7 linked regions of the Homo sapiens genome follow. The protein of the gene in region 1 interacts with the protein of each later gene in a biochemical or structural test. Each region holds a gene or a part of one and is shown in the gene's direction. Other genes may lie near its edges. The genes, in order: ANXA1, FLOT1, IGF2BP3, CD44, STRAP, RCC2 and LGALS8.

Region 1 (4,655 bases):
GTTATGAACATAAGAGACTCACTTTATCTCTAGTTAAATTCACAGAATAAAAGACTAGTCTTAGCTTATTTTATCTCTCCAGTGAAGCATCTCATTTAAATGATGTGCTCAACACTGAAAAGAGGGTAATTGCAAGTCTCTTACCATTTTCCTACTCTCATTTCCCTGAGCTGCTGGCTTTTTGGCTTTCCCAATGCAATATATGGCATATAGAAGATCTTTCTGCTTGATTCTCATACCAAGCATGGAGAATACAATAGCTTTTGCATATCATTTTCAGAGGAATTTAATAAAAGAATAAAAATAAGGAAGCTTTTAAACCTCATTTTCTGCAATTCTTATTTAATTACCAATGTTTATGTTAGATCCATGTGTCAGTGGTAATAATGATGATTATTTTTGTTTGATAAAACATAGTTTATAAAAATAAGTGTTTATATATTTTTCATATGGCCAAGATATAGGCCAGTGATAGTTTATTACATTGCCCAGTTTCAAGTTGTTTTAGTCCGTTTGTGTTGCTATAAAGAAATATCTGAGACCAAGTAATGTAAAAAGAAAGGAAATACTGTACAAGTAGTATGGGACCAGCGTCTGCTTTTGATGAGGGCCTCATACTACTTCTACTCATGGCAGAAAGCAGACAGAAGCAGATGTGTGCAGAGAGGGAGAGAGAGAAAAGGAGGTGCCAGGCTCTTTTCAACAGCCAGTTCTTAAAGAAACTATGAATGAGAACTCACTCCGAGCCATTCATGAGGGATCTGCCCCCATCATCCAAACATCTCCCAACAGGCCCCACCTTCAACAGTGGAGAATAAATTGCAACATGAGACTTGGCAGGGCCAAACAAACAATATGAAAACCATAGCACTAGTCAATTATAAATTCAATTATTTTTTCCTATTACAGTATTATTTTATGTAGTTAAGCAGAAGTGTTTACACACACATAAATCATCAAACTGCATTACTTATAAGACATTTATAGTTTTTAAACTAAATAAATAATTTGCATTCAAGCAAGTACCTCATTTTGTTCTTTTAAACAATTATTTTATTCATTCTATTGCTTAAATTCTGCCATGTTGTATTTCAGAATTAATTACTAATGTATACCTATACAATTTATTCTTAACGAAAGCTTTATGACTGTGAGTTTTCAATCACAGTATTATCTAAATTGCTCCCATTGCTTCATATGAAATAAATTCAATGATCCAAAAATTTACCTGCTTTAATTTTTCTCTTCTTATTTAAAAATGATAATATTTTGCAACATGTTCCATAAGTCATTGAACACTGTGGCACTGTGAATTTTCAACCAACTTAGAGATGTCAGATATTCTTATTATTATTCATCACTGGTTTACTATAAAATCTATTTTTCTTTTTTCTCAGAACTGAAGAGAGATCTGGCCAAAGACATAACCTCAGACACATCTGGAGATTTTCGGAACGCTTTGCTTTCTCTTGCTAAGGTACAACTCAGATACTTTAGGAAATGCCTCTTGTTTTATAAAGACTAATTTCTTAGTCCATTTTGTGTTGCTATAAGGGAATATCTGAGGCTAGGTAATTTTTAAAGATAAAAAGGTTTATTTGGCTCAGGATTCTGATGGCTAACAAATTCAAGTTTGGGTATCTATGTCTGGTGAGAGCCTCAGGCTGCTTCCACTCCTGACAGAAGAGGAAAGGGAGCTGGTGTGTGCAGAGACCACATGGCAAGAAAGGAAGCAAGAGAGAGAATGGGGAGGTGCCAGCCTCGTTAACAACCAGCTCTCGTGGTTCTCATGAGCAAGAACTCATTCCCAGTGACGGCATTAATCTCTTCATGAGAGATCAGCCCCAGGACCCAAATACCTCCCTCTAGGCCCCACCTTTAACACTGGGGATCAAATTTCAACATGAGGTTTGGAGGGGAAGAACATCTAAAACCATCGCAAGTAAAATCTTGTATCTGAGCTCCTTCTAGAAATGAGTAATAGAATACCTTTTTCTCAAAAAATATTATTTATCTGAGTTTAAGATAATTAAGTAAATCATGCAATTACATGCTAGAGAAGAGCTTACAATAGAATGGGATTTCTTTCAGGGTGACCGATCTGAGGACTTTGGTGTGAATGAAGACTTGGCTGATTCAGATGCCAGGGTAAGGAAGTGCTTACAAAATACTGCTGCAGTTCATCTTCCTACCTTAAGTGGGGCTACCACATGATCCCCTGTGAAAGCAAATCTAAGATCTTCTGAGAGACCAATGGCTTCTTAATGTTCATTTCCTGAATGAGGCATGTCTTTCTGTAGCCCCCACACACAAAAAAGTAGTCTTTGTAAGTTTTCAATATCTCTCATTATTCGTAAAACCAGAGAGAACTGAAGAAGGACAATACAAATTTGATTTGTCATTCCCAAGAATTGTTTGTTAAAAAAAACTCTGACCTTTCGTTGTACTAGGTATAAGAAGGGGAAATGTAATTTTTTTATTATGTGCAATGGAAAGAGTAAGCATATTTAACGTTATTTTTAACAGAGAACTTTGGAATGGTTTATAGATGTCAATTTATATTGTCAAAATATTACTGCAATGATATAACAAGAGTATAGGATAAATTATAATAATATATGCTTTCTAACATATTGTTTTATTTAGTTTCAGTGACATTGCTGATTATTTATATGCCAAACCACTGGCAACATAAGAAAAATCATATCATTTTAAAGCCTGGAATTTCCATTTAAAACAAACAAACAACTAATATTTGCATTATGCCTTCTCATGGAACAGTATTCTCTAGAGAATTCATTACAGTGCTTCACTAAGGATAGAGATTTCTTTGTGCACCCCCATCCACTTCTGCTATACCAGTACATTATCATGTACATAATAGGCACTCATGAACTTTTTGTTCAACAAATGCATACATATCAGATCAATTTGCTTGAAAAATGCAAAATAATTTTTACATACATTGAAGGTTTTATCATTTTAATAGAAATTGTTCAAGCATATTAAGGAACAAGAGTTAGCATTTGAATAATTGCCCATAATAAAAAATTCTTATTTGCTTTTGACATTTCTGAATTTGCTTTCCATTTTAAGACTATCAGGGTTCTTAATATATATTTATGGAGGTTACATGGATTAGTGTGACCCAAGAGAATGATGGTAGTCAACATTTCAAAGTTAATAAAGACCGCTTGTGACAATAGGGCAGGGATTATATTTTTCATATATAAAAGAAAAAAATCTGTCATTTAGTAAGGTTGATCTATTTGTCTAAGATTATGCAGCTTTGAAATTGCAGAGTCAGAATTTGAATACAGAAATTCTAACATCAAAATGCAAGGTCCAGGTTACGGTTGAATTATTGATTTATAAGTAACATTTGCTGATAATTACTTTGAACAACACAGAGTAAAAAATCTTTAGAGATCCCCTTGGAGTTGTCTTACTATAGAGCATAATCTTAAAGCAATTTAGTTCAGCAAACATTTATTCTGCAAACATATATTCAGACTCTAGTGTTTACAAGGCACCTTGAGAGAAACTGTGGAAGATATTTGACAAACAAAATAAGGTCCCTATCTTTAAAGAACTTGCAATCTTATTGTTGACTACTCTGATTGTATTGGGCACAAAGCGATTGCCTATATAATCTTTGACAAGGTCTAACATTATTGTGCAGATATCATTTCAGCAGATAGTGAAGTGTTTACTTTTGTGTTTCTTGACAGGCCTTGTATGAAGCAGGAGAAAGGAGAAAGGGGACAGACGTAAACGTGTTCAATACCATCCTTACCACCAGAAGCTATCCACAACTTCGCAGAGGTAACAATAAATTTCTTTTTCTGGAATCTGTTTATGGAAGATGCAATTTTCTTTTTTGATGACAAATAAGAGAAAGTAAAAACAGAACCCTTTTTCAATATCACTCCTGTATCAAACAGATACAGTGTTCCTGACCCATTGTTATTTGTCAATTTGTCCAATTTTGTACAGCCGCTACTTTATCATATTTAATACATTTTGTGACTTGGGCATGTGGAACATAATTTTGTTATTTTCACTGCTTTTACTCCCCTAAAAGATTTGGAATATGTGTGGGAAAAGACATGCATAACAGAACAAATGAAATTAGAATGAAGAAAAACAAAAAAAAAAAAACAAAAAACCCTCAGAGCTAAATGAAGAAAGAAATATGTAGGTGCTTTGGAAAAACAACAACAAGACAAAACTCAGAAAAAGTCCTGGCCTTTGAGTGCAAGATTTAGCTCTGGGCCTCTTGGAAGTGAAGGCGATGGAAAAGTTATGACAATTACCAAAGTTCACCATCTTATAATAGTATACTGATTTCTACTGTTAAATGTAAGAGAAATTTAGTGCACAGGTCTTTATATAAGGGAAGATCCATTTGCTGTGGCTCTTAGAACTGCTGTAGGAAGTGCTATAGTTGTCAATCACATGCCGTTTCTAATAACTGTCAACATTTGCAAACATTTCGCCAAAATATATAGGAATACCAAAATGGCCAGGTAAGTTACATTCCTAGGAGAGGATGAAGTATTCACGTTATGATTAATTGGGTATATTGCTTTAAAAGGTGTAGCCAAAGTTGTTATTCTAAAAAATTCTTTGAGTCAGTTGCCTTGATTTTGCTA
Region 2 (3,894 bases), on another chromosome or scaffold:
AGTTCAAGACCAGCCTGGCCAATGTGGTGGAACCCCATCTCTATTAAAAACACAAAAATTAGCTGAGCGTGGTGGCAGGCACCTATAATCCCAGATACATGGGAGGCTGAGGCAGGAGAATTGCTTGAACCTGGGAGATGGAGATTGCAGTGAGCCAAGACTGCGTCACTGCACTCCAGCCTGGGTGCCAAGAGCGAAATTCCATCTCAAAAAAAGGTAGAATAAAAATCTCAGAGAAAGCAAGACCTCAGAAAAAATATTGTCTTTATATTCTTTCTGAGGAAGCTTCTGGAGGTTGAGTTTCACCAAAAGGTGGGCATAGACAGGAAGGAAAAAGAAACAGACAAATGGTTGCCTAAGGGACACAGGAGAGAGGTGATCCTGCACACCGGTGTAGAGGGCAACGAGGCCAGTTTGGAACGGGTTTGAAAATTTAGGGTGAAAGACAGTACAGAGTGCCGTCTCCAGAGCTATGCTTCTCTCTGGAGTGAACAGATGGGCCCGGGGGAAGGTAGGAGGCAGGGGAAGCATCACATGTATTGATGAGACCTACAATGATGATGGTGCATGGCTGAGCCTGAGCAATGGGACAACGAAGGCATGTGTTCTGGCTGGGTGTGATGGCACATGCCTGTAACCCCAACACTTTGGGAAGCCGAGGCAGGTGGATCACGTGAGCCCAGGAGTTTGAGATCAGCCTGGGCAACATAGAAAACCCTGTCTCTACAAAAAGTACAAAAAATAGCCGGGTGTGCTGGTTCACACCTGTAGTCCCAGCTACTCTAGAGGGGGAGGCGGGAGGATCATCTGAGCCCAGGCAGGTCAAGGCTGCAGTGAGCCATGATTACGCCATTGAACCTGGGTGACAGAGTAAGATGATGTCTCAAAAAGAAAAAAAAAATGTGTTCCTTGCCTGGCACCTCTCCTCACTAGCATCTTGATAAGAGCCTTCTGATTCCCTCACACTGCAAGGAATAAGAAGATGAAATCTAGGCTGGGTGCGATGGCTCATGCCTGTAATCCCAGCACTTTGGGAAACTGAGGCGGATGGATCACTTGAGATCAGGAGTTTGAGACCAGCCTGGCCAACATGGTGAAACCCCGTCTCTACTAAAAAAAATACAAAAATTAGCCAGACATGGTAGCACATGCCTGTAGTCCCAGCTACTTGAGAGGCTGAGGCAAGAGATTAGCTTGAACCTGGGAGGTGAAGGTTGCACTGAGCTGATCGTGCCACTGCACTCCAGCCTGGGCAATAGAGCGAAACTGCCTCAAAAAAAAAGAAAGAAATCTGCCTAAATAAGAGGAATTCTATGAATACACACATTCTTGTAGATGTTCAGAGTATCCCTGGAAGGATACACAAGAAGCTGGTCTTGGTGGTTTCTCTGGGAAAGGGACCCAGGTGGTTTGGAGAATGAGGAAGAAGCCTCGTGGTTCACTTTTTTTTCTGTTAAATCTGCACCATGTGCAAAAGACAAAAAAGATCACCTGTCCCCACCCCCACAAAAAATAAGTCAGCTATTGCAGTAGCCTAGGCTAGCACTAAGGTTATCGCAGCAACAGTGGGGGGATTTGAGCAAGACTGGAGATAGCAGAAAGCCAACATGTGCTCAGTGCCCTCAAGGTATTTATACTCTAGAAGGGGGCACACGTGGGAAAAATAGATTAAACGGGGGCTCATCAGAGAAACACTGGACTCCACTGGACTGGCCAAGCAGACAGGAGGGAACCCACCTTCATGCACCTGCTCCTTTTTTTTTTTTTTTTTTTTTGGAGATGGAGTCTTACTCTGTTGCCCAGGGTGGAGTGCAGTGGCGTGATCCCAGCTCACTGCAACCTTCGCCTCCCAGGTTCAAGCAATTCTCCTGCCTCAGCCTCCCGGGTGGCTGGGACTACAGGCATTCGCCACCACACCTGGCTAATTTTTTGTATTTTAGTAGAGACAGGGTTTCACCATGTTGGCCAGGCTGGTCTCGAGCTCCTGAACTCAGGCAATCCACCCTCCTTGGCCTCCCAAAGCGCTAGGATTACAGGCGTGAGCCACCGCGCCCGGCCACCGGCTCCTATTTTTATATCCCACTCTGGAGCTCTGGTTCCCGGGCACTTGCTCTTCACCTCTGACTCAGAGCGTGAACCTGACTTCACCCTCCTACCCAGGTGGCCAAGACTAAGCAGCAGATTGAGGAGCAGCGGGTGCAGGTGCAGGTGGTGGAGCGGGCCCAGCAGGTGGCAGTGCAGGAGCAGGAGATCGCCCGGCGGGAGAAGGAGCTGGAGGCCCGGGTGCGGAAGCCAGCGGAAGCGGAGCGCTACAAGCTGGAGCGCCTAGCCGAGGCAGAGAAGTAAATGTCCCCTCCCTGACCCTGCCTAGCTCACTTGCCACCTAGGCACCCCAAGATGGAGTGCTGAAGCCTTCACCACCTGGACTCCTATGGATTTCAGGTTTCAGGAGCGTCTGCCTCTGCAGCACTGGGCCTTTCTCCTGGGAGTAAGGGCTGCTGGGCTCCACCCTCCACTTCCCTTCTGTCCACAGGTCCCAACTAATTATGCAGGCGGAGGCAGAAGCCGCGTCTGTGCGGGTGAGTTAAGAGGCAGTTCCATGCTGGCTTGTGGAGAGGGTGGGGGTTGCTGCTTGATCGGGGATTTCTTGTTCTTAATGATTTCCGTCAATCTCACAAGCATCCTTAACCCTCAGATGCGTGGGGAAGCTGAGGCCTTTGCCATAGGGGCCCGAGCCCGAGCCGAGGCTGAGCAGATGGCCAAGAAGGCAGAAGCCTTCCAGCTGTACCAAGAGGCTGCTCAGCTGGACATGCTGCTAGAGAAGCTGCCCCAGGTCTGGAGGTCATGTGGGCACCAAGAAAGGAGGAAATAGAACCAGGGACTAAGGGGTGGGGTGTAGTGAGGGGCTTAGGGAGAAACAGCCTAGGGGGACTCTAAATTAGGGGTGGGAATTATTAGTGACCAAAGTGAGGAAGGATGATCAGTGGAACGAGGACCTTAAAACCCAGAGTAAGTTGTTTTATGAGGAATGTGGTCAGATCATGGGCACTGAGTGGGTGTCTCTCTCCTGCCAGGTGGCAGAGGAGATCAGTGGTCCCTTGACTTCAGCCAATAAGATCACACTGGTGTCCAGCGGCAGTGGGACCATGGGGGCAGCCAAAGTGACTGGGGAAGTACTGGACATTCTAACTCGCCTGCCAGAGAGTGTGGAAAGACTCACAGGCGTGAGCATCTCCCAGGTGAGGTCTCAGGTTGGAGCTGAGGAGAATTGCTAGGTTCCTGTGTTGTGTGACACAGTATGCCTAGCATTTAACCAGCATCCAGGCCTGGGAGTCATTGATGTTTATTAATCACTTTCTGTGTGCCAGACACAGTGCTAAGCTTCTACATAAATGAGTTGTTTTAAATCAAACTACCATTAGGGTATATAGGATTTTACAAAGTCCAGAAACTCAACATCCAGCATGTTCCTACTCATTCTGCTAGTGCAGCTGGAGTGAAATCCAGGTCGACTGTCTCTGCAACCTGTGCTTGTGGTCACCCCACTAGTATAGGGAACTAGTTGCAGCCTATTGACAGTTAATTAATTCTAGGGCATATCACTGCTTTTCTCAGCGCCCCAGTTAATTCACCTGTAGATCATGGTAGAAGTCAGCAAACAGGCTCTGGAACCACTGTTTTGTTGCGAATCCTAGCTACAATGCCTGCTAGCTGTAATCTTGGACAAGTAATCAACCTCTCTATACCTGTTTCCTCATCTTAAAATTGGGTTAATAATTAGAAACTACCCTGTTGAATTGTTGAGGGGCTCGAGCAAATATTTGCAGTGTTTAGAATAGTGCCTGGTATATAGTAAGCATTATGTGTATGTTAAAGAAATGGGGCCAGGTGCAG
Region 3 (4,655 bases), on another chromosome or scaffold:
AGTTGATGCTGGCTGTTGGCAGAAGGCCTCAGTTCCTCCCACATGGGCTTCTCCACAGAGCTGCTTGAGTGTTCTCAAGACATGGCAGCTGTCAAGATGGAAACTGCAATGTCTTTTATGACATAGCCTCAGAAGTTATACTCTATCATTTTTCTAATGTTGTTTACACAAGTCAGCCCTATTTGGTATGTATGTGTGGGACTACAGATAACTGGGTGACAGGAATCACCTTGGAGGCAGGCTACCACACTTAGAATCTGTGGATGCTCTGAAATTACGTGGAAAGGTTTTTCTGAGGGTGGCCATTCTTAGTTTCACTCAGAGTACTCAAAAAGGTGGGAAAAGATTGATGAACTGAGGAAGAGTGGTAGGGGAAAGACTGCACGGTGTTTGTGTACAAGGAGTTTTCAAAGGAGGTAGTAAGGAAGCAGGAAACTTCTGTTTGGTTGTAAAGAAAGGGGGAAAAAAACCCCACAAAGTGGTAAATTCAATAAGTAATACTACTTTGTCTTAAATTTACCCCCAGAAAGGGGAGAGTTTTAAAAGAAAAAAATCTCAAAAGTTATTCTAGAAGCAGCTATTTTTAAAACTGTAATACAAAATGCTTGGCAGGGCCAGGTTGAGACTGAATTAGAATTATAGACTTCTTTTTAAAGTAGTCTAAGAGAAATAGTCTTCATTATACAAATGTTTACATTTTTAACAAGTTTGAGGAAAATGTTAAGGAATAACTTCCCATTCATCTGGCTCAAGGTTAGCCTGTGACATTATACTAGTAGTGAAAATGAGAACTTCAGGAAGATGAAGGAGATTTGTACCAATAATCCATATCCTCTCAATTTATGTACTTAGTTCTGTTTTCCATGGCACATGTCTCCCATTGCTTTTCCTCTCAAGGCTGTTGACCAGCATAGGCTTAGGTGTTTTCAGGTATGATATTCAGTGGCTTTTGAAGGTTCAGCAGGACCTAGGTCCCGCAGGGAGTTTCTGAATATTTCTGCCACTATCTAACGTTTTTGTTATCTAAATGGCATCGGTGAACCATTTTAAATTTTAGTCAAGATGGATTGATATTCCTCCAGCCTACTTCAATCTAAATTCTAAAGAAACTGGTAAAAACTAAGTTTAGACACAGGAATTCTGGCTTGTGTTTTTGGAATATTTCCATGCTTTCTCCTTGCTTGGTGACCCAGAAAATGCAATTGCACGAGAATGCCAATTATGCCTAGAATTGGTTAATACAGACTAGGAACATACTTATGAAAGGTTATGTACTTAGGGTATTTGGTTTCCTCAAAAACTATACATCTTTCCAGTCATTTTTTAATTCACTGTTCAATTGTGAAAATGGTTCAACTTTAAGCGGTTGAGAAGTAAGCTTTATTTAAAATATGGACTTGATTGAACTATATGTATCCAGTAATCGTTAGTTGAGAAAATGGGAGGGCAAATATTTTCTTCTCTCTTGCAGCTTTACAGTTTCGGATTTACGTCTTTTGGGGCTTACTCATTTCCCATCATGTTTTACCACCCACTTTTACATATTACCAGGCTCCACAGTTTGTTTTTAATTGCCGTCTGTGGCTGAATTATTAGCTGTCTTCCTCCAATTTTCATTCTTTTTCTTTCCCTTCTTTTTCATTCTGCAGATTGCAGGAATTGACGCTGTATAATCCAGAACGCACTATTACAGTTAAAGGCAATGTTGAGACATGTGCCAAAGCTGAGGAGGAGATCATGAAGAAAATCAGGGAGTCTTATGAAAATGATATTGCTTCTATGAATGTTAGTTTTGTTATGAAGGGCATGTCTTTATTTTAACAAATAGTTAAAACAATGTTTTTAACTGCATTAATATTGAATTCTTTTGTGGCATTATCACTAGAAGTAGTTCTAGTTGATTTTTAGCACCTCAGCAAGTACCCTGGGATAGTAGGGAAGATACTGGCTTTGACATTAAGCTTTGCTGTCTCTGTGACTTTAGCAAATTATTCAGTCTTTGAGCCTTAGCTTCCTTCTGTCTGAAGTAAGGCTAGTGTCTACCTACAAAGGTTAATATAGTACCTCTCTTACAATGTTAATTTGAGAGAGTTTAATATAGAAGAAATGTTACATGAACTGGATTTGAATCACAGCTGAACCATTTATGAGCTGCAGCTCTCTTCTCTTATATGATTTACTCAGTCTCTCTGAGGCTCAGTTTACTCATCTGTAAAATGGGACTACTGCCTACCTTGCATTCTTATTAGGATTACAATAGATATAATGCATATAAAAGTTAATGTTAAGATTACAGGTTTAAAACTTGGTTAGCCATATAAACCTTGGAGATACAAGAATTTCAATTGATAAAACAATCTGTGTAGTGCATCTGAGGCTATTAAAGCAAATTGCTGACATTCCTTAATCAGTGAAATGGTGCTGAAAATGGAATACTTCAAAAGCCTGTCTTAAATTTTAAAGTAAATGACTTTAAAAAATAATTTTTTTTCAATTGGGCCAGTCATCTGAAACACAAAACCTGAGACGAGGGAAATGTGCAAATACTGCGTTTGTGAGAAGAGCCTAGAATGCTAGCCATTTTACACCCCACGTGACTTCTTGCCAACCTGCTTCAATTCTCACTGCTTGGCTCCAAATGTTCTGGAATCAACTGGGATTAAATCTAACCCCCTTAGGCCTTTTAAAAAGATTTTCAAGTACACTCAAATCTCCCTTCCACCGTCTACATTACGTCCTCAACCCTTATAAAATTAAACAAATTAAAATACCCTTTCTGGCTCCTATTTCCATTCCAGTGATATGTTTACTTGCAGTAGTTACATGGGGATGGGTCCTGATTTCCAGAGGGCTCAACTTTGAGGCCTCTAGACCCATGGTTGCTAAGTTTTACCCAGCAAGTAAAGATCTCTTAATAGCTGGTTTGCTTTTCAATGAACCAATCTTACTTGATTACCTCTTCAACTCTGATACATTGCTTTTTGTCTATATTTAGTTTGCCCACAGCATGCAGAATACGGTTTTGTCTAAGTCCTGTGGGCTAGTCATAAGGGAAAGGAAAGCTTCCCTTGAGATATCTTAATGCAGCTGTGGACCAAGGAGGGGGCAAACCAGCACACAGATTTTAAAATACCAAGGGATATAAACAGATGTAAACGATGTACTCAAGTAGAGTCCCATGGAACATCTGCTTTGAGTTATACAATCATTTCTTTATTAGACAAGAGATCAGTTTGAATACTGTCACTTAAAAATGCTCACTTTCCCTTGATTCTTTTAATTGTCAAATTAAGGGGCCTTTTTACTGTTGCAGCTTCAAGCACATTTAATTCCTGGATTAAATCTGAACGCCTTGGGTCTGTTCCCACCCACTTCAGGGATGCCACCTCCCACCTCAGGGCCCCCTTCAGCCATGACTCCTCCCTACCCGCAGTTTGAGGTAAGATAACTGGCCTTGGCTTTCTTTGTGATTGGGCAAAATCTTAATGTAAACCTAGTCCCCGCGTGATCATCTGTTTAGATGCCAACATATGCTCTCCAGTTCTTGCTAATGGAGCCTTCTTATTTGGCCCTTTGTGGAGTAGACATGGGATTATTTTGCAGTTTTTGGATAGCGGGGTTGTCAACATGTGTTTTCAAATATCACAACAAAAGTTTGGGACTTTGAGGTGGCAGGGGAAGAAACTTAGTAATTGTTTTTCTTATTTAAAAAAATTTTTTTTCTTTTTTCTTTTTTCTTTTTTTTTTATTCTAAGTTCTCGGATACATGTGCAGAATGTGCAGGTTTGTTACATAGGTATACATGTGCCATGGTGGTTATTTAAAAGTTTTTGGAGACACAGTCCCACTCTTTCGCCCAGGCTGGAATGCAGTGGCACAATCTTGACTCACTGCAACCTTCACCTCCCGGGTTCAAATGATTCTCATGCCTCAGCCTCCTGAGTAACTGGGATTACAGGTGTGTGCCACACCACACCCGGCTACTTTTTTTGTATTTTTAGTAGAGACAGGGTTTCGCCATGTTGTTCAGGCTGATCTCAAACTCCTGGCCTCCAGTGGTCTGCCTGCCTCGGCCTCTCAAAGTGCTGGGGTTATAGGCGTGAGCTATTACCTGGCCAGTAATTATTAAATACTAAAGGAAAAGATTTTTTAAAGGCTTCTTTCATCTTTGTCACCTGAAGTCAATGGCTTTGAAAGGTCAGGAGTGACTCTGTGTGTTTTCCATGTTGAGTGTACTTTTTTAAACCAAAGAGATAAGATAGTTTTGTGCACAATTATATTGTGTGTGTGCGTGCATACATTAAGCAGATGTTTATTTTGTAAAGAGGTAGGTTATATAAGAAATAAATCTTAGGCCAAGTGCCATGGCTCACACCTGTAATCCCAGCACTTTGGGAGGCCGAGGCGGGAGGATCACCCGAGGTCAGGAGTTCAAGACCAGCCTGGCCAACATGGTGAAACCCCATCTCTACTAAAAATACAAAAAATTAGCCGGAGTGGTGGCAGGTGCCTGTAATCCCAGCTACTTGGGAGGCTGAGGCAGGAGAATCGCTTGAACCCAGGAGGCAGAGGTGGTAGTGAGCTGAGATTGCGCCATTGCACTCCAGCCTGGGCGACAGAGCGAAACTCTGTCTGGGAAAAAAAAAAAAAAAAGA
Region 4 (4,655 bases), on another chromosome or scaffold:
CCCCTCTCCATTGCTCAATTGCCCCACTGGGTGACGTACCAAGATAAGCCACATGTTTGATTCTTGTTTGCTGGATGTGGACATATGCACATTGCAGGTATGCCTATAAGTACATGCCTGAAGGATCTATGTGTGTGGTGGGAATTGGTGATGCCAAAGAATGCTAAAGACTTTCATGCCCCTTAAAGGGGAAAATAACCACAACAAAACAAATTCCAATGTATCTTCTCCTGTCTTCTGCAGCACTGGGGGAGTCCCCTGATAACAGGGATCATGTCACATTCATTTTTGTGGGCCCAGATCCCAGTAATATTGACCCATAACTGTTGAACTGCAATGAATGTCTAGAATATAAAAGTCATGATATCTATATATATGGAAGCATGCTGTCAGTATGGGCTAAGGTGCAAATACATTTATGTGTAAGTGAGAACCATGGTGATGGCTGTGTTGCTCAGGACAGGGCTGACTTGGCTGGCTGACTGCCCACCACAGGCCTCATGTTTGGTCTACCCCAAACAGTGAGCTCACCCATCTGTTTGTTTGCGGCTTTGGTGGCTGCCTGCTGTGACCGCTGGGGACATCTGGCTAAAGACAGGGTTACTAGATAGTTGGGCTGAGAAGGGAGTGGGAGCCAGTGAGATGAGGACACCAACCCCAAATTTAAGCCTCAAAACAAAAACACTCCCCAGCAGCAGCCACCTTGGGGTTCTAGTTATTTTGGAGATACTGATACGAGGTTGAGATCCTTGGGTGAGAGGCCCACACTCCTCCAACCCCCATGTCTGCTTCTGGAAGGTGGTGGCAGAGGAGAGAAGTAGAAGTACTATATGGGAGATGCGGGAGATTCTTGCCTTCTCTGTCGGTCTCTTTGGGCAATTATCAAGCTGTCATCTGACCAGATACTACCATAGCTTCTTCGGGGGCAAATCCGTAGGGAATCCTGACATCCGACGGGGAGCCACTTTGGCAATGGCAAACGGTGTCTCCTCTCCACAGAGCTTGTGATGTCAGAAATTACCCATAACTGGGGCAGGTTTTGTCTTCCCAAAGATTGTCTGCCCAGCTAGACCTGAGAGACAGGGAGACAAACACAGAATGAGGGGGTGGGTCTTGTGGGGGTGGGGAACGATGGAAACTCACAGAGCCAGATCTCCCCGAGTTTGAGTTGCACTGGCTGCCTGGGTGTGTCCTCCTGAGGTAAGTGTCCCTGCGAAGTGCAAGTGTGGGCAGACAGATCTCAGGTGGGTGGGGAGGGACTGAGTCACCAAGGAGGTGATTTGCAAAACTCAGGTCCCAGAAACTTTCAGGTCTTCAGCTTTTAAAAGTAAAGGTTAATTGCAAAACTCCGGGGTTGAGGGAAGAGATTATTCACATAGACCAGTCATTTTGAGCATCTGCTGTTGTGGCATTGCAAGTCTCCTTCGCAGTGCCTGAAAGTTCATTTGTTTTTGAGAGCTCTTACGCTTTTTCTGTTTGCATCTTTGCACAAGTTCTATGTTTCTGAGAACCCTCACCACTATTAGTAATAATAGCAAACACTTACAGAGTGTTGACCATGTACCAGCGCCATTCTAATTGTTTCCTATATACTGCCTTGTTTAATCCAAACACTGACTTCATGAAGGTGGTGCTGTTATTATCTGTCTTTTACATATGAGGAAACTGAGGCACAGAGAATTTAAGTAGCTTGCCCAAGGCCATGCAGCTGATAAGTGATGGCGCTGGGATTCAAACTCACATCTGGCTACAGAGTTCATGCTCTTTGTCACTATGTTAGAGTGCTTCTCTTGGTATATTAAGATATCGAGGCACCCTAGAAATCCAGACGATTGTACCTGGAAGTACTGTAGTTGTTTTCAAAAACTTCATTTGGGAATCTAGTTGTGGGTGAGGTCATAACATCCACTGAGCTTTTAAACATGATGTCAGAGGAAGGGGTTAGAATTGCAAAAATGAAGGAGGAGGAAGTTGTAATGGAAACTTCTGCCAATGCATATTCTGAGTTGACTCATTCATTCTGATCTCTGAATAGAAGCTCTACTCTCTTCCATGTGATGGAAAGTTGAGGATAGGGTAGGGCTGAGAGGGATGTGAATTGAGTTGTTTGTTCATTAGGATAGGATAGGGCTGAAAGGGATGTGAATTGAGTTGTTTGTTCATTATCACTTCATTATTTGTCACCTGGATGAAAGGTAAAGGTGGCTGATTAGTGTTTCTCCATCAGCTAGAACTTTGACTGGGAAATGAGCCAATCAAATAGCAGCAAAATATTTGCCCTCACCTTACAGGCCCTTGGTTCCAGGGTCTTCTCTCCACCGGCTAGAATGGATGAGGGAGGGAGAGAAACTCTGAGAAAAGAGGCTGTCAGGAGTAGGGCTGTACATATCCAGGGCACAAGGAATTTGGCAAAAGCTGGAAGTATACTATAGCCCTTCTCTCCAGCCCTAGCCTAAACCAGATGACCAGGCTTCTATTTGGCCCAGCATGTGACCATCCCATCAGGGAGCAAGAGAGTTTCCTCTGGGTACCCCTCACTGAGAAAAAAGCCACCCAGGAAGGGAGGAGGCAAGGCCCCCTGGGAACATCTGGCTCAGTCCACAGGAAGGGATGCAGGCCTTTTCCTGGGAATGAGGACTCATCCCATATTCCAGCCCCCTTCCCCCAACTTTTTTTTTTTTCAATTTTAGTGCATCTCTTTACACTTAACAGGTCTGCAGTGACTTCTAGGAGGATCCACACACCAATCGTGGAACTAGGCAGCATCTTTTTCCACTTCCTTTCCAAGATAGTAGCACGATAACAGTAAAGCCCCTTTGCAAGTGTTCACTATTATGCACATTAAGATGCCAGGGAGAGGGCTGGGAAAGGTGGCTCACACCTGTAATCCCAGCACTTTGGGAGGCCGAGGCAGGCGGATGACCTGAGGTCGGGAGTTCGAGACCAGCCTGACCAACATGGAGAAACCCCGTCTCTACTAAAAATACAAAAAAATTAGCCGGGCATGGTGGTGCATGCCTGTAATCTCAGCTACTTGGGAGGCTGAGGCAGGAGAATCACTTGAACCCGGGAGGCAGAGGTTGCAGTGAGCCAAGATCACGCCATTGCACTCCAGCCTGGGCAACAAGAGCGAAACTCGGTCTCAAAAAAAAAAAAGGTGCCAGGGAGAAATGAACAATTCCATGCAGCCAACACCTGGTCTCCTGCGTTTGGCTTAGAAGGGCATTTCTGCCCAAGCCCCCAGCTCTAGTCTTTGCACACTTTAAATGAGTAGCTACTACATGCCAATCACAGATGTTGCCTCTGCTGAGTATCCAGTCAAAAAACCAGAATCTAACAGAGCTAACTAAGCACCATCTTGCAGGAAACCAGCTGACGTCAGCTCCGCAGCCACCAGTGAGTTACTGGGCCCACATCTGCCTGCAAGAGGGGGAGGGGAATTCAGGTAACCCACAAGAGGGGATAAAAGTTCGGGGAAGAAATCTCCTGTCAAGGAGTTTGTTTTTGCAGTGGATCCTCTGCAGTGAGACTAGTTGTCTTTACAATATCATTAGAGGTCAGGTACATTCCTGTAGACTCCCTTAAGTGACTTGCTTTCTCCTATTGTTCCCCCTGAAAATTCATAAAAACCTCACAAACACATCTCCATTTAAAAAGAGAAAGTTTAAAGGATGCCATGTAATGGTTATCTCTTTTCTTTTGCCAGTGAGCATAAAAGCTCCTTAGGGAAAAGCCCAAACCCTCTATACATTTTCATATTCATGATAGCCCTGAGCGGTCAGCACAGTTCCCCAATTATAGTGGGTGCTCAATAAACACTTGGATGGCTTACTGAATTAATAATGTTTCTAGACTTGGCTAGCAAAGCCATCTCCGTTACTTATCTTTTGTGATTTTTATAGGTTCTGTCTAATTCTTTTTCTTCATTTTTTTTCTTTCTGGTCTATACAAATCTTCTTTCATTTTTCTCTATTGCTACTTGTAGCGATCCTCAACCCGCCTCCTCCCTTGAAATTTCTGTTCTCTGCACTCTCTTCAGTCTAAAGAGATCTTTCTTGAGGTTTGAAATGTTACACAAGGCAGGGGAAGTTTAGAGCTAATTGTATTTTGTCCAGTAGAACGGGGATCTGGATTTCCTATAGGTCTGGCTGCCTCTTTGTCTACACCTTTACTTCCAAATCTGGCCTCATGTATAAAAAGACCCCAAACCTTAAAATCATGTTCTCAACAATACTCAGAGAAAAATTGTTGGCTTTTTGGTCACCATGCTAGAGGAATAAAAGGGCAGTTGTTTCTTTCGGTCAATGGTTTGAAAACCTCCCAGACTAAAAATCACCTCCATATAATCAGATGCTTGGTGTGGTGTAATGAAGATGAGGAGGTCTGGCTTTGATAAGAGTCATTTAGAAGGTATAAAGGCAGTGGAACAAGACGGGAGGACCCATACACCAGTTGATTCCCCTCTTGCCACTTAACAGCAGCGTGAGCTTGGGCAGTTGCACTTGTTAAATGTCTGGAACAATACTTAGCACGTAATTTCTAAAGCTTAATGTTTAGTTCACAGAAGGTATCCCAAGAATAGAAATGATTATTATATTTTAGCTTCTCTCTATTACTGATTCACTATGTGCTGCTAGGCAAAGTATTTCACCCCC
Region 5 (4,655 bases), on another chromosome or scaffold:
GGTTGCAGTGAGCCGAGATTGCATACCAGCCTGGGGGACAAGAGCAAAACTCCTTCTCAAAAAGAAAAAAAAAAAATGAATTGTTGGAAGCCATTGATAGATACTACCAAAGTGTCTTCCAACAAAGTATGGGTATATATGTATGTATCTATACCCAACATGTTCTAGTGAGCACTGATAACTAACTTTCTCTTTGTCAATTTAAGAAAATAATTCTGTTGTATTAATGTGAATATTCATGAGATTAAAATGCTATTGAATACCATTTTAATATATTCCCTTTTTTATGGAATAATTGCCTGTCTACCTTTTGTCCATTTATCTGTTGTGTTATTCATGTTTTTCTTACTGGTTTTTAAAGGTTCTTTATTGAATTCTAATTTATCATTTGCTTTTAAATTTTGTTAAGGTGGTTTTATGGTATATATGTTTTTAACATTTTGGTGGTGAAATTCTTTATGCATTCTCTCATTTTACAGAAGTTATAGGTGTCTTCCCCAGTCTACATGTTTATTTTATAATATTTTAATAATTTCCCTCACCATATATATACTTAGCTACCAAAACATGACAAACATAATTTTGTTTTATTATATATTTGGTATCTTTCAGATTTTATTATGTGGACATTTATGTAGTCATAAATCTATAAAATTTTAAAGAGTAATAAGAGAGTCAGAACCACATTGGAAATTAAGCGGTTATTCTCTTGAGATACCTTCCATTTCTGAGAACTTTTTAAAATATTTTACATTTTAATGTTACAGTAATTTGTTATGAAAACATTTTTAAGGTGAGGAAACAAAGCGCATTTGCAGATTTTTTTATTCTCCATTGCATGTAGAAGTTTTTTTCTCCTTTCTTTTTTGATAAATCTATGCCAAAACATAGCAAAGGACTCTGACCTCACTTCTTCTATGAACCCATTCAACAAAGCAAGGTAGTTCAGGGATTGGGTCAAAGCAAGGTAGTTCAGGGATTGGGTTGACATTTTTCATGCTCTTTACCTTTCCCAAAGCTGTTTTATGAAAGTTGCTCTTTCGCTGTGCTGGCAGCAGAAAATAAAATGAGGTTTTACTGTGTATCGGGTATCTGTTAAGCCCTATTCGCATTTGTAACCATTGTTATCTCATTTTACAGATGAGGAAATAAAGTTAAAAAGTTAAGTAACATGCCCAAAGGTGAAAATAGTGTTGAATGGCATTGCCTCCAGTGTCTGCTTTTGCCCCTAGAGACAGCAGTGAGGGTTTTTTGAAGTTCTTCGAAAGGATAATCTCCTACAGATTTAAGCTCCCTTCCTTTTTTTTTATGTTTTCCTCACAGTGTAGAAACATTCTTGGGAATTGCTGTCCCACTTTCTATTTCCCTTTTTTCCTTCCAACCCTTATTTCTCATTATTTACTATCAATAGCTGCTTGGATAAACGTCCCAGAGTTAGCCATAGTACTGCAATCAGATTCAACTGTTTTGTTCCTGAGTCCGTGTTCTTATTAAATTATGCCACGTTAATTATTTTATTAATAATATAATAAATACTTTTTATTATATATAAAATACTTTTTATTTATTATACATATAATAAATATATACTTTTTATTATATATAAAATTCTTTTTATTATACATATAATAAATATATACTTTTTATTTATTATACAATAATGCTTTTATATTTATTATACTTATACAATTATACAATAATGCTTTTATATTATACAATAATATTTGTATTATTGTACAAATAAATATTGTATATTATACAATAATGCTTTTATATTTATTATACTTATACAATTATACAATAATGCTTTTATATTTATTATACATATAATAAATATAAAATACTTTTTATTTATTATACAATAATGCTTTTGAATATTATCAGTTGTGCAGAAATTTAGCCTAGAGGGAGTGAGTGGTGCATTCACTCAGCTACATATAGCAAGCATGGTAGTTCCTTGGGTCCCTGTCATGCAGATAAATTTATGTTCCAATATAGAAAAACTAACTGTATTCTATATAAACATCAAGTTTGAATTGGGCTGGGCTTTGAAAAGTTGCAGTCTAATTTAAAATGTGTGTTTTTAAAAATATATAATTGTTCCGATATTGTTCAGTTTAAAAAATCATATATTAACAAATGTACTTTAAATTGTTTTATCTCAAGAACCTAAGGAAATTAGTGGTCATACTTCTGGTATAAAAAAAGCTCTGTGGTGCAGTGAGGATAAACAGATTCTTTCTGCTGATGACAAAACTGTTCGGTAAGTAATTTTTCTTTAATAATTTACAATTTAAGGCCGGGCATGGTGGCTCACGCCTATAATCTCAGCACTTTGGGAGGCGAGCCGGGTGGATCATTAGAGGTCAGGAGTACTAGACCAGCCTGGCCGACATGGCGAAATACTGTCTCTATGAAAATTACAAAACTTAGCCAAGCGCGGTGGCACACACCTATAATCCCAGCTACTCGGGAGGCCGAGGCAGGAGAATCACTTGAACCTGCGAGGCAGAGGTTGCGGTGAGTCGAGATCGTGCCATTGCACTCTAGCCTGGGCGACAGAGCTAGACTGTCTCAAAAGAAAAACAAACTTAAAATTTGCAAAATATTTTACCTTAGAGCTTATATTTTAAATACATTTAATATTATGTGTGAAAAATGTTCTGAACATTAAAATTTAAGTTGCACCCAGGTCACATTTATCTGGAGCTATCTATTTACTAATACAGGTTGAGTATCCCTAACCTGAAAATCTGAAATTTGAAACGCTCTGAAATCTGAGACTTTGAGTGCCGACTTGATGCTTAAAGGAAATGCTCATTGGAGCATTTTGAATTTCCTATTTTCAGGTTAGGAATTCTCAGTTGGTAAGTGTCTAATGCAAATATTCCAAAATCCGAAAAAGTTTGAAATCCAACTTTTTTCTGGTCCCAAGTATTTTCAATTAAGGGATGCTCACCTTGTGTATACAGACAGCAAAATTCAGAAGAAAATTAAATTGCTGATACCTTATAAGCAGGTGTTTTTAACCTGGGTCTGTGGGCAGAATGGTTAAAGGGAGGGACCATGAAGCCTCTGAAATTCTATACAAAATCTTGTGTGCTGACACCTGATGTATATTTCTTTGGAAAGATGTGTAGCTATTACTAGATTCACAAAAACAGAGTGTAAGAACCACTATTTATAGCAATGCTGAAATTGACTAGATTAGAACTTGTCTTAATAATGTAGTTTTGCCAAATTGGGAAGTGTATGTAGGTATTAAAGTTGATTTTACTTACAAGCTATCATGCATAATTTGACATTGTATATAGAAACCCAGAATTTTTTTTAATCATCTGTAATTTGTGACTTGGAATGAATGTTGTTTTTCTGTAATTGTGATTGTTCTTTCGTTGGCTAATCTGCAGATGTAATTAGAATTTATAAACTTTTTTCTTACATGAGTAAACATCATATTTTTATCTTTATTTTGCAGACTTTGGGATCATGCTACTATGACAGAAGTGAAATCTCTAAATTTTAATATGTCTGTTAGTAGTATGGAATATATTCCTGAGGGAGAGATTTTGGTTATAACTTATGGACGATCTATTGCTTTTCATAGTGCAGTAAGGTATGTCCAAGAAATACTTTCATTTTCTTTTTTAGGTAACAAAAGACATTTTGGCTACTTAAAAATGGGAAGGTATTTACTTTTTTTAAAAGTAAAGAGGCCAGGAGTGGTGGCTTATGCCTATAATCGCAGTACCTTGGGAAGCTGAGGTGGGAGGATGGCTTGAGATCAGCCTGGGCAACACAGTGAGACCCCCATCTCTACAAAAAATAAAATTAGCTGGGTGTGGTGGCACACGCCTGTAGTCCAGCTGCTTGGGAGGCTGAGGTGAGTATTCTATTGCTGGAGCCTGGGAGGTTGAGGCTGCATTTTGCTGTGATCTTGACACTGCACTCCAGTCTGGATGACAAAGCAAAACCTCCTCTGAAAAAAAAAAAAAAAAAAAAGCAAAAACTACTGAAATGGTGCTGTCATTAATGTTTTTTACTATATAAAACCAGTGTGGGCTGGGCGTGGTGGCTCACGTCTGTAATCCTAGCACCTTGGGAGGCTGAGGTGGGCGGACCACTTGAGGTTAGGGGATTGAGACCAGCCTGGCCAACATGGTGAAACCCCGTCTCTAAAATAAAAATACAAAGAGAAGAAAAATTAGCTGGGTGTGGTGGTGAGTACCTGTAATCCCAGCTACTTGGGAGGCTGAGGCAGGAGAATTGCTTAATCCCAGGAGGTGGAGGTTGTTTTGAGCTGTGGTCACACCACTGCATTCCAGCCTGGGTAACAGAGTGAGACTCTGTCTCAAAAAAAACAAAAAACAAAAAAACAGTGTGATCTTGATTCTACTATTTATTTTCACCTTAAAGTTTTAGAGAAGGAATAATCTTATTTCTGTTCCTGAGTATTTGCAGACTTAATGAATTTTTTAAACAGATTTGAATTTTGCGACTTTAAATGTAGTAAATACTCTTGGAGAAAGACTGGAATATATAACATAATTGAAAAAAATGTACCCACAATATTATACCCATAGGTGCAAGAGTGATAATGGTAGTTATATTTTCTGCTAGTCCATTTTTCTATGTTATATATGTGGGTGTACAGT
Region 6 (4,655 bases), on another chromosome or scaffold:
TTTGCCAGGCTGTCTGCTGCGTGGCCTTTATACACAAGCAGGGTCGCAGACACTGAGTTCGTCCAAAAAAACAATCCGTAGGCCCATCAGGGAAGGCTGGATTCCGCCTGGGAGGGCACACTGAGCTTCAGACACCCACACACCCACTGGCACCCCCGCCCTGCCCCGCCGCCCCGGGTGGAGCCCGCAAGCGCGGGAGTCTCTCCCACGATTGGCTGTTTCTGGTCTCTGAGGAAGAGGAGCACCCCTTAAGTGAGAAGGGGTGCTGGGAGTTCTCTGTTACTCTATTTAAATGTTAATTCCACATAAGGCAGAGGAAAGAAGTTATAGAGAAATAAAAGAAAGCAGCTTAGAGCAAACAATTATGTAAATAATAACGAAATACACTAACCTCCATCTAATGTGTGAGGAAATAGGATCCATGACGTAAAAACTTGAATAACAGTTAATGTCCTTCATAGGAATCTGACCACCGTCACTGGAGTAGACTCAGTTTACCGGGGTTTTTCACACATACACACGTATATATGTATATGTATACACACGTATGTATATGTGTGTGTGTGTGTATATATATGTGTGTGTGAGTGTATATATATATTTTTTTCTTTTTCTTTTTCTTTTTCTTTTTTTAAGATGGAGTCTCGCTCTTTCGCCCAGTCTGGAGTGCAGTGGCGCGATCTCGGCTCACTGCAAGCCCCGCCTCCCGGGTTCATGCCCTTCTCCTGTCTCAGCCTCCCGAGTAGCCGGGACTACAGGCGTGAGCCACCATGCCCGGCCCACAAATACATTTTTATTGGCGTGGTTGGGTTTGCCTATAAATGCTTAGCTAGCTTGATGGATCAGTCTTCATGAGCCCTTGACCAAATGTCCAGGTCACCCAGGAAACTCCCTCCCCAAGGCCAAGGCCACTGCGGTTAAGCTCTGGCTGTCTGAACTTGCCCCTGAACCATGCCCTCTGGCCTGATGGAGCTGAGGCTTCTGGTGTGGCCTCAGCACTGTGAAGTTTTGCTGCAGTGGTTGCATCTCAGTGTAGGGTGGTTTGACTTCAATGGTTCATACTGAGCACAGGTGCCCATGAACCTCCGCCTGCCTGGTCTGCAGTTGCTGGCATTCCAGGGCTCTTTTCTAGGCTTGCCCTCTGGCCTGGGAGCTTGGTCTCCAGTGCCTTAGCACCCTTCCTGGGTCTCTACTGCCCCCTCCATGCCAACTTGGTAGGCTTGGGCAGAGGACCCAGAGGCCTCTCCTTCCACAGGGACTTCAACAGAAGCCATTGAATATAGACCTGTAGCATATTCCAGCCAGGCCTGCCAGTTAAACAAAGAAGGGCAGATAACCAGGGGAAGCTAGGCTCCAATTCAAGTAACCTGAGTTGTGGGTGCTGCAGGGGCTGGGCCACCCTCTGATTAAGGTCATTTTCTAAATAATTTAAATGAACCAAAGTTGTTCTCCCTTTCCGTGTTGTTTCACTTCCCTCCCCCCAACTTTTTTTTTCTCTTTTTGAGACAGAGTTTCGCTCTTGTTGCCCAGGCTGGAGTGCAATGGTGTGATCTCGGCTCGCTGCAACCTCTGCCTCCTGGGTTCAAGCGATTCTCTTGCCTCAGCTTCCCAAGTAGCTGGGATTACAGACACCCGGCTAATTTTTTGTATTTTTAGTAGAGACAGGGTTTCACCATGTTGGCCAGGCTGGTCTCAAACTCCTGACCGCAGGTGATCCACCCACTTTGGCCTCCCAAAGTGCTGGGATGACGGGCCATGAGCTACCGCGGCTGGCCTCACTTCCCCTTTTCATGAGGACTGCAGGATGCATTCCTGTAGATTGACCATCTTTTTCCTGTTACATAATGTGGTGGAGTGGGCAAGCGTGACGGAACCTATATCTTGGGGGACGCCCTAATCAGGTTTGGGTCGTGTAAAGGTTCCTATTGAAGTGGAAATCATCCGTCATGAAGATGTGTAATCTTAGAAATGCGTGAGCCGTACTGCCAAAGCATACCCATGGGGTGATCACACTGTAGAGGTTAGAATGATTGGGCCTGGAGCTGCCCTTTTTTCTTTTTCTTTCTTTCTTTTTTTTTTTTTTTTTTTTTTGAGACAGGGCTGGCTTTGTCACCATGGTTGGTCTTGAACTCCTGACCTCAGGTGATCCGCCTGCTTCAGCCTCCCAAAGTGCTGAGATGACAGGCGTGAGCCACCACACCCAGCCCACATATATATATATATATATATATTTTTTTTTTTTTTTTTTTTTTTTTTTGAGATGGAGTCTTGCTCAGTCGCCCAGGCTGGAGTGCAGTGGTGCGATCTTGGCTCACTGCAAGCTCCGCCTCCTGGGTTCACACCAATCTCCTGCCTCAGCCTCCCGAGTAGCTGGGACTACAGGTGCCGGTCACCATGCCCGGCTAATTTTTTTTGTATTTTTAGTAGAGATGGGGTTTCACCGTGCTAGCCAGGATGGTCTCTATCTCCTGACCTCGTGATCTGCTTGCCTCAGCGTCCCAAAGTGCTGGGATTACAGGTGTGAGCCACCGCGCCTGGCCAACAAATACATTTTTATTGGCATGGTTGGGAACTTTCATCGGCGTTATTTTATTGGCATTTTATCGGCACTTTGGGAGGCCAAGGTGGGTGGATCACCTGCGGTCAGGAATTTGAGACCAGCCTGGCCAACATAGTGAAACCCTGTCTCTACTAAAAACACACAAAATTAGCTGAGTGTCTGTAATCCCAGCTACTTGGGAGGCTGAGGCAAGAGAATCGTTTGAACCCGGGAGGCAGAGGTTGCAGCAAGCCGAGATCACGCCACTGCACTCCAGCCTGGGCAGCAACACTGGGAGTGCAATGGTGCAATCTCAGCTTACTGCAACCTCCGCCTCCCGGGTTCAAGGGATTCTTCTACCTCAGCCTCTGGAGTAGCTGGGACGACAGGCGGATGCCACCACGCCTGGCTAATTTTTTTGTATTTTTAGTAGAGACGGGGTTTTACCATATTGGCCAGGCTGGTCTTGAACTCCTGACCTCGTGATTCACCCGCCTCAGCCTCCCAAAGTGCTGGGATTACAGGCGTGAGCCACTGTGCCTGGCCCCCTTTTTTTTTTTTTTGAGACAAGGCCTGGCTATGTCACCTAAGCTGGAGAGCAGGTGTGATCTTGGCTCACTGCAGTCTCCAGCTCCTCAGCTCAAGCAATCCTCCCACCTCAGCCTCCCAAGTAACTGGGACCACAGGCTCATTTTTCTATTTTCTGTAGAGACAAGGTTTTGCCATGTTGCCCAGCCTGGTCTCCAAGCTCAAGCAATCTGCCCGCCTCGGCCTTCCAAAGTGCTGGGATTACAGGCGTGAGCCATTGCGCCTTGCCAGACTTTTTTCCTGAAGCCTTCCAAGAACAATTCTGTAAACTGAAGGAAACCCCTTTCCTTTTCACGTCCAGGAAAGATGTGTAAGAGCGGAAAGTGATAGCAGTGAATGCTTCCCTTGCCAGTGTGGACTGAGTGAGGAGTTCAGAATTGAGTCTTCCACTAACAACCTACTTGAAAAAGTATATTTTGACATTTAAGGAAGCAAAGTGCTGAGAATATTATGAGTGCCACCCAGAATTGAACAATGGCCTTTTTAAATGGCGTAGATTTTCGTTGACAGTATGAGAGTTGGTGGCCCTGATGACTTTGTGTTGAGAGACTGAGGATGAACACTGAAGTATGCTGGCTGCTGTGACAGCTTGTTCCTTGAGAGCCGGGCCCCTGGGAGGTCCTGTTTCACTCACCATTGGCTCCCGGGCTCATGGACAGCGGCATGAGGGTGCCATCAAAGGCCGCCTGATTCAGACCCCTGCATACCCACCAAAGCTGTGTTCTGCCTGGTCTCCCTTCAGTGGAGAAATCGAACCTTGTTCTCTACTGTTTTCTTCCTGAGTCCCCATGGAAAGGCTCTCGGCAGAGTGGGCAGCAGAAGTGATGTGAGGCTCCTAAGGTTTGAGGTCGCAGGCCGTGCTTGCCATGTGAAATAGAGACTTGGCCCTAGGATGAGCTGGATTTAACGCCCCTGAGTGTCCGGCAGGCTTCCTGCAAATACCTCTGTACATCAGTTTGCGAAGGAGGCATGTATTTGGGTTTTTTTTTTAGTGTTTTGCAAAAGCTATTTTAAAGGGAAGTCAAAGGATAAAAATGAGCCTGGGCTTAGCAAGTGAGCGGCTGTGGGCAGGTTTGGGGTTGCCCGCATTGCCACTTGCCGATGAGGGAGGGGAGTGTGGGGAGACTCTGTTCGTGTGGAGGTCACAGGTGACATAAGGGCTAACTGAATGATTTTCTTTCGTTTCGTGCTGTCATTGGACAGCCTTGGAAAGCTAGGTGCAGACTTACACACTAATTCTTTTTTCCTTTCTCTGTCTCTGCAGAAACTTGAAGGGTCAAAGTGCAAAGGGCAGCTTTTGATTTTTGGGGCAACCAACTGGGACTTGATTGGTCGAAAAGAAGTGCCTAAACAGCAAGGTATGAGAATGGTGCCTCAAAAACCCATTGAGTGCTTCTTAAGTGCTAGGTTCTGTTGACCACCTGCCTGGTAGGTATTCCCTTCATTTACAAATGCATTTTCACAGAGGCCAAGTGACTTGCCTGAGGCCACACAGCCACTGTAGTGATGAGCTGGATTTGAACCCTAA
Region 7 (3,905 bases), on another chromosome or scaffold:
ATTAATTGTCTGGTTTGTTCATGGTCCTAGAGTTTGAGGCAGAAAAGTCAGTCAGGATCCAAGTCCCTTGGTTCCAGGCTACAGCTGGAAACAGCATCTCGGTGAACTAAAGCAACCATATTAGGAGTGAGTTTTCCTGCTTTAGGAGAGTCCCCAGCATCGGCGAGGAGGGGCAGCACTCTGGCTTTCCAGGAGCAAGGGGCAGGATGCGGCCGAGGGAGAGGGGCTGTGTTGAGGAAAGGAGGGCCGCAGGCCCTGGGGATGGTGTGAGGCTCCAAACATGTCCGAGTCACTTCCCTGGGTGGGATGAGGCAGACAGTGCCACCACCAGGGACACTTTAGTTAGATTAGGGTCTTGGAAGTCAGAAGGAAGTCAGCAGCAGCAGGCTGGAACTTTTCTATGTATAATCAAATGGTTTACTCTGACACCGTTAGCATGTAACAAACACAAAATTTTAAACTAAGGGGAACCACTAATGGCATGTATCCTTTCCTTTCAGATGATAATTTATTGTGATGTTAGAGAATTCAAGGTTGCAGTAAATGGCGTACACAGCCTGGAGTACAAACACAGATTTAAAGAGCTCAGCAGTATTGACACGCTGGAAATTAATGGAGACATCCACTTACTGGAAGTAAGGAGCTGGTAGCCTACCTACACAGCTGCTACAAAAACCAAAATACAGAATGGCTTCTGTGATACTGGCCTTGCTGAAACGCATCTCACTGTCATTCTATTGTTTATATTGTTAAAATGAGCTTGTGCACCATTAGGTCCTGCTGGGTGTTCTCAGTCCTTGCCATGAAGTATGGTGGTGTCTAGCACTGAATGGGGAAACTGGGGGCAGCAACACTTATAGCCAGTTAAAGCCACTCTGCCCTCTCTCCTACTTTGGCTGACTCTTCAAGAATGCCATTCAACAAGTATTTATGGAGTACCTACTATAATACAGTAGCTAACATGTATTGAGCACAGATTTTTTTTGGTAAAACTGTGAAGAGCTAGGATATATACTTGGTGAAACAAACCAGTATGTTCCCTGTTCTCTTGAGCTTCGACTCTTCTGTGCGCTACTGCTGCGCACTGCTTTTTCTACAGGCATTACATCAACTCCTAAGGGGTCCTCTGGGATTAGTTATGCAGATATTAAATCACCCGAAGACACTAACTTACAGAAGACACAACTCCTTCCCCAGTGATCACTGTCATAACCAGTGCTCTACCGTATCCCATCACTGAGGACTGATGTTGACTGACATCATTTTCTTTATCGTAATAAACATGTGGCTCTATTAGCTGCAAGCTTTACCAAGTAATTGGCATGACATCTGAGCACAGAAATTAAGGCAAAAAACCAAAGCAAAACAAATACATGGTGCTGAAATTAACTTGATGCCAAGCCCAAGGCAGCTGATTTCTGTGTATTTGAACTTAGGGCAAATCAGAGTCTACACAGACGCCTACAGAAAGTTTCAGGAAGAGGCAAGATGCATTCAATTTGAAAGATATTTATGGGCAACAAAGTAAGGTCAGGATTAGACTTCAGGCATTCATAAGGCAGGCACTATCAGAAAGTGTACGCCAACTAAGGGACCCACAAAGCAGGCAGAGGTAATGCAGAAATCTGTTTTGTTCCCATGAAATCACCAATCAAGGCCTCCGTTCTTCTAAAGATTAGTCCATCATCATTAGCAACTGAGATCAAAGCACTCTTCCACTTTACGTGATTAAAATCAAACCTGTATCAGCAAGTTAAATGGTTCCATTTCTGTGATTTTTCTATTATTTGAGGGGAGTTGGCAGAAGTTCCATGTATATGGGATCTTTACAGGTCAGATCTTGTTACAGGAAATTTCAAAGGTTTGGGAGTGGGGAGGGAAAAAAGCTCAGTCAGTGAGGATCATTTTATCACATTAGACTGGGGCAGAACTCTGCCAGGATTTAGGAATATTTTCAGAACAGATTTTAGATATTATTTCTATCCATATATTGAAAAGAATACCATTGTCAATCTTATTTTTTTAAAAGTACTCAGTGTAGAAATCGCTAGCCCTTAATTCTTTTCCAGCTTTTCATATTAATGTATGCAGAGTCTCACCAAGCTCAAAGACACTGGTTGGGGGTGGAGGGTGCCACAGGGAAAGCTGTAGAAGGCAAGAAGACTCGAGAATCCCCCAGAGTTATTTTTCTCCATAAAGACCATCAGAGTGCTTAACTGAGCTGTTGGAGACTGTGAGGCATTTAGGAAAAAAATAGCCCACTCACATCATTCCTTGTAAGTCTTAAGTTCATTTTCATTTTACGTGGAGGAAAAAAATTTAAAAAGCTATTAGTATTTATTAATGAATTTTACTGAGACATTTCTTAGAAATATGCACTTCTATACTAGCAAGCTCTGTCTCTAAAATGCAAGTTGGCCTTTTGCTTGCCACATTTCTGCATTAAACTTCTATATTAGCTTCAAAGGCTTTTAAACTCAATGCGAACATTCTACGGGATGTTCTTAGATGCCTTTAAAAAGGGGGCAGATCTAATTTTATTTGAACCCTCACTTTCCAACTTCACCATGACCCAGTACTAGAGATTAGGGCACTTCAAAGCATTGAAAAAAATCTACTGATACTTACTTTCTTAGACAAGTAGTTCTTAGTTAACCACCAATGGAACTGGGTTCATTCTGAATCCTGGAGGAGCTTCCTCGTGCCACCCAGTGTTTCTGGGCCCTCTGTGTGAGCAGCCAGGTGTGAGCTGTTTTAGAAGCAGCGTGTTGCCTTCATCTCTCCCGTTTCCCAAAAGAACAAAGGATAAAGGTGACAGTCACACTCCTGGGTTAAAAAAAGCATTCCAGAACCACTTCTCTTTATGGGCACAACAAAGAAACGAAGGCTGAAGTTCGCCTACCCAAAATGAAAAGTAGGCTTTACAGTCAAAAGTACTTCTGTTGATTGCTAAATAACTTCATTTTCTTGAAATAGAGCAACTTTGAGTGAAATCTGCAACATGGATACCATGTATGTAAGATACTGCTGTACAGAAGAGTTAAGGCTTACAGTGCAAATGAGGCGTCAGCTTTGGGTGCTAAAATTAACAAGTCTAATATTATTACCATCAATCAGGAAGAGAATAATAAATGTTTAAACAAACACAGCAGTCTGTATAAAAATACCGTGTATCATTTACTCTTTCTGCAGCTCTATACGATAGGCAGGAGAGGCTTATGTGGCAGCACAAGCCAGGTGGGGATTTTGTAAAGAAGTGATAAAACATTTGTAAGTAATCCAAGTAGGTGTATTAAGGCACCAAAAGTAACATGGCACCCAACACCCAAAAATAAAAATATGAAATATGAGTGTGAACTCTGAGTAGAGTATGAAACACCACAGAAAGTCTTAGAAATAGCTCTGGAGTGGCTCTCCCAGGACAGTTTCCAGTTGCTGAATAGTCTTTTGGCACTGATGTTCTACTTCTTCACATTCATCTAAAAAAAAAAAAAAAAAATCAAAATTAAAATCTGAGTCAGTCCGCCTGCCTCGGTTCTCATTAGTTTAATTCTTAATGCCTTGCACTTTCCGGCAATCATTCAATCAAAAGAGTGAAATGAAGCACATTAACAAAGCAGGAGGCGCCACGGACCGCCTCCCTCCACACCGCTCCTTCCGCCTTCATTCCTTGCCCACAGGCTTGCACTGGAAGCTGAATAAGAATCCCCAAAACTCAAACTTCCTAGGGATGCCACCCCTTTAGTAGCTCACACCTCCCCCCTCCAAGAGCTAAGAAACAAAGGAGAATGTACTTTTGTAGCTTAGATAAGCAATGAATCAGTAAAGGACTGATCTACTTGCTCCACCACCCCTCCCTTAATAATAACATTTACTGTTATTTCCTGGGCCTAAGACTCTATGTT

What was found.
Region 2: the proteins of ANXA1 (region 1) and FLOT1 interact in a test that uses a peptide from one of them, tested with the Homo sapiens proteins (one large-scale study listed by BioGRID).
Region 3: the proteins of ANXA1 (region 1) and IGF2BP3 interact in a test that uses a peptide from one of them, tested with the Homo sapiens proteins (one large-scale study listed by BioGRID).
Region 4: the proteins of ANXA1 (region 1) and CD44 interact in a test that uses a peptide from one of them, tested with the Homo sapiens proteins (one large-scale study listed by BioGRID).
Region 5: the proteins of ANXA1 (region 1) and STRAP interact in a test that uses a peptide from one of them, tested with the Homo sapiens proteins (one large-scale study listed by BioGRID).
Region 6: the proteins of ANXA1 (region 1) and RCC2 interact in a test that uses a peptide from one of them, tested with the Homo sapiens proteins (one large-scale study listed by BioGRID).
Region 7: the proteins of ANXA1 (region 1) and LGALS8 interact in a test that uses a peptide from one of them, tested with the Homo sapiens proteins (one large-scale study listed by BioGRID).

The regions. Positions count from the first base shown.
Region 1 is NC_000009.12:73,161,385-73,166,039, forward strand, and holds part of ANXA1 (annexin A1), read left to right. Parts: intron 1-1,397; coding exon 1,398-1,477; intron 1,478-2,091; coding exon 2,092-2,148; intron 2,149-3,731; coding exon 3,732-3,825; intron 3,826-4,655. UniProt on the Homo sapiens protein: Plays important roles in the innate immune response as effector of glucocorticoid-mediated responses and regulator of the inflammatory process. Has anti-inflammatory activity.
Region 2 is NC_000006.12:30,729,367-30,733,260, reverse strand, and holds part of FLOT1 (flotillin-1), read left to right. Parts: intron 1-2,160; coding exon 2,161-2,342; intron 2,343-2,533; coding exon 2,534-2,579; intron 2,580-2,695; coding exon 2,696-2,833; intron 2,834-3,074; coding exon 3,075-3,239; intron 3,240-3,894. UniProt on the Homo sapiens protein: May act as a scaffolding protein within caveolar membranes, functionally participating in formation of caveolae or caveolae-like vesicles.
Region 3 is NC_000007.14:23,340,848-23,345,502, reverse strand, and holds part of IGF2BP3 (insulin-like growth factor 2 mRNA-binding protein 3), read left to right. Parts: intron 1-1,649; coding exon 1,650-1,785; intron 1,786-3,313; coding exon 3,314-3,439; intron 3,440-4,655. UniProt on the Homo sapiens protein: RNA-binding factor that may recruit target transcripts to cytoplasmic protein-RNA complexes (mRNPs). This transcript 'caging' into mRNPs allows mRNA transport and transient storage.
Region 4 is NC_000011.10:35,144,948-35,149,602, forward strand, and holds part of CD44 (CD44 antigen isoform 1 precursor), read left to right. Parts: intron 1-4,655. UniProt on the Homo sapiens protein: Cell-surface receptor that plays a role in cell-cell interactions, cell adhesion and migration, helping them to sense and respond to changes in the tissue microenvironment.
Region 5 is NC_000012.12:15,891,881-15,896,535, forward strand, and holds part of STRAP (serine-threonine kinase receptor-associated protein), read left to right. Parts: intron 1-2,166; coding exon 2,167-2,263; intron 2,264-3,478; coding exon 3,479-3,616; intron 3,617-4,655. UniProt on the Homo sapiens protein: The SMN complex catalyzes the assembly of small nuclear ribonucleoproteins (snRNPs), the building blocks of the spliceosome, and thereby plays an important role in the splicing of cellular pre-mRNAs.
Region 6 is NC_000001.11:17,428,936-17,433,590, reverse strand, and holds part of RCC2 (protein RCC2), read left to right. Parts: intron 1-4,391; coding exon 4,392-4,485; intron 4,486-4,655. UniProt on the Homo sapiens protein: Multifunctional protein that may affect its functions by regulating the activity of small GTPases, such as RAC1 and RALA. Required for normal progress through the cell cycle, both during interphase and during mitosis.
Region 7 is NC_000001.11:236,547,512-236,551,416, forward strand, and holds part of LGALS8 (galectin-8), read left to right. Parts: exon of another isoform or gene 1-450; intron 451-500; coding exon 501-650; 3' UTR 651-3,390; coding exon of another isoform or gene 3,391-3,479; 3' UTR 3,480-3,905. Other genes in the region: HEATR1 (HEAT repeat-containing protein 1), read right to left, coding at 3,391-3,479.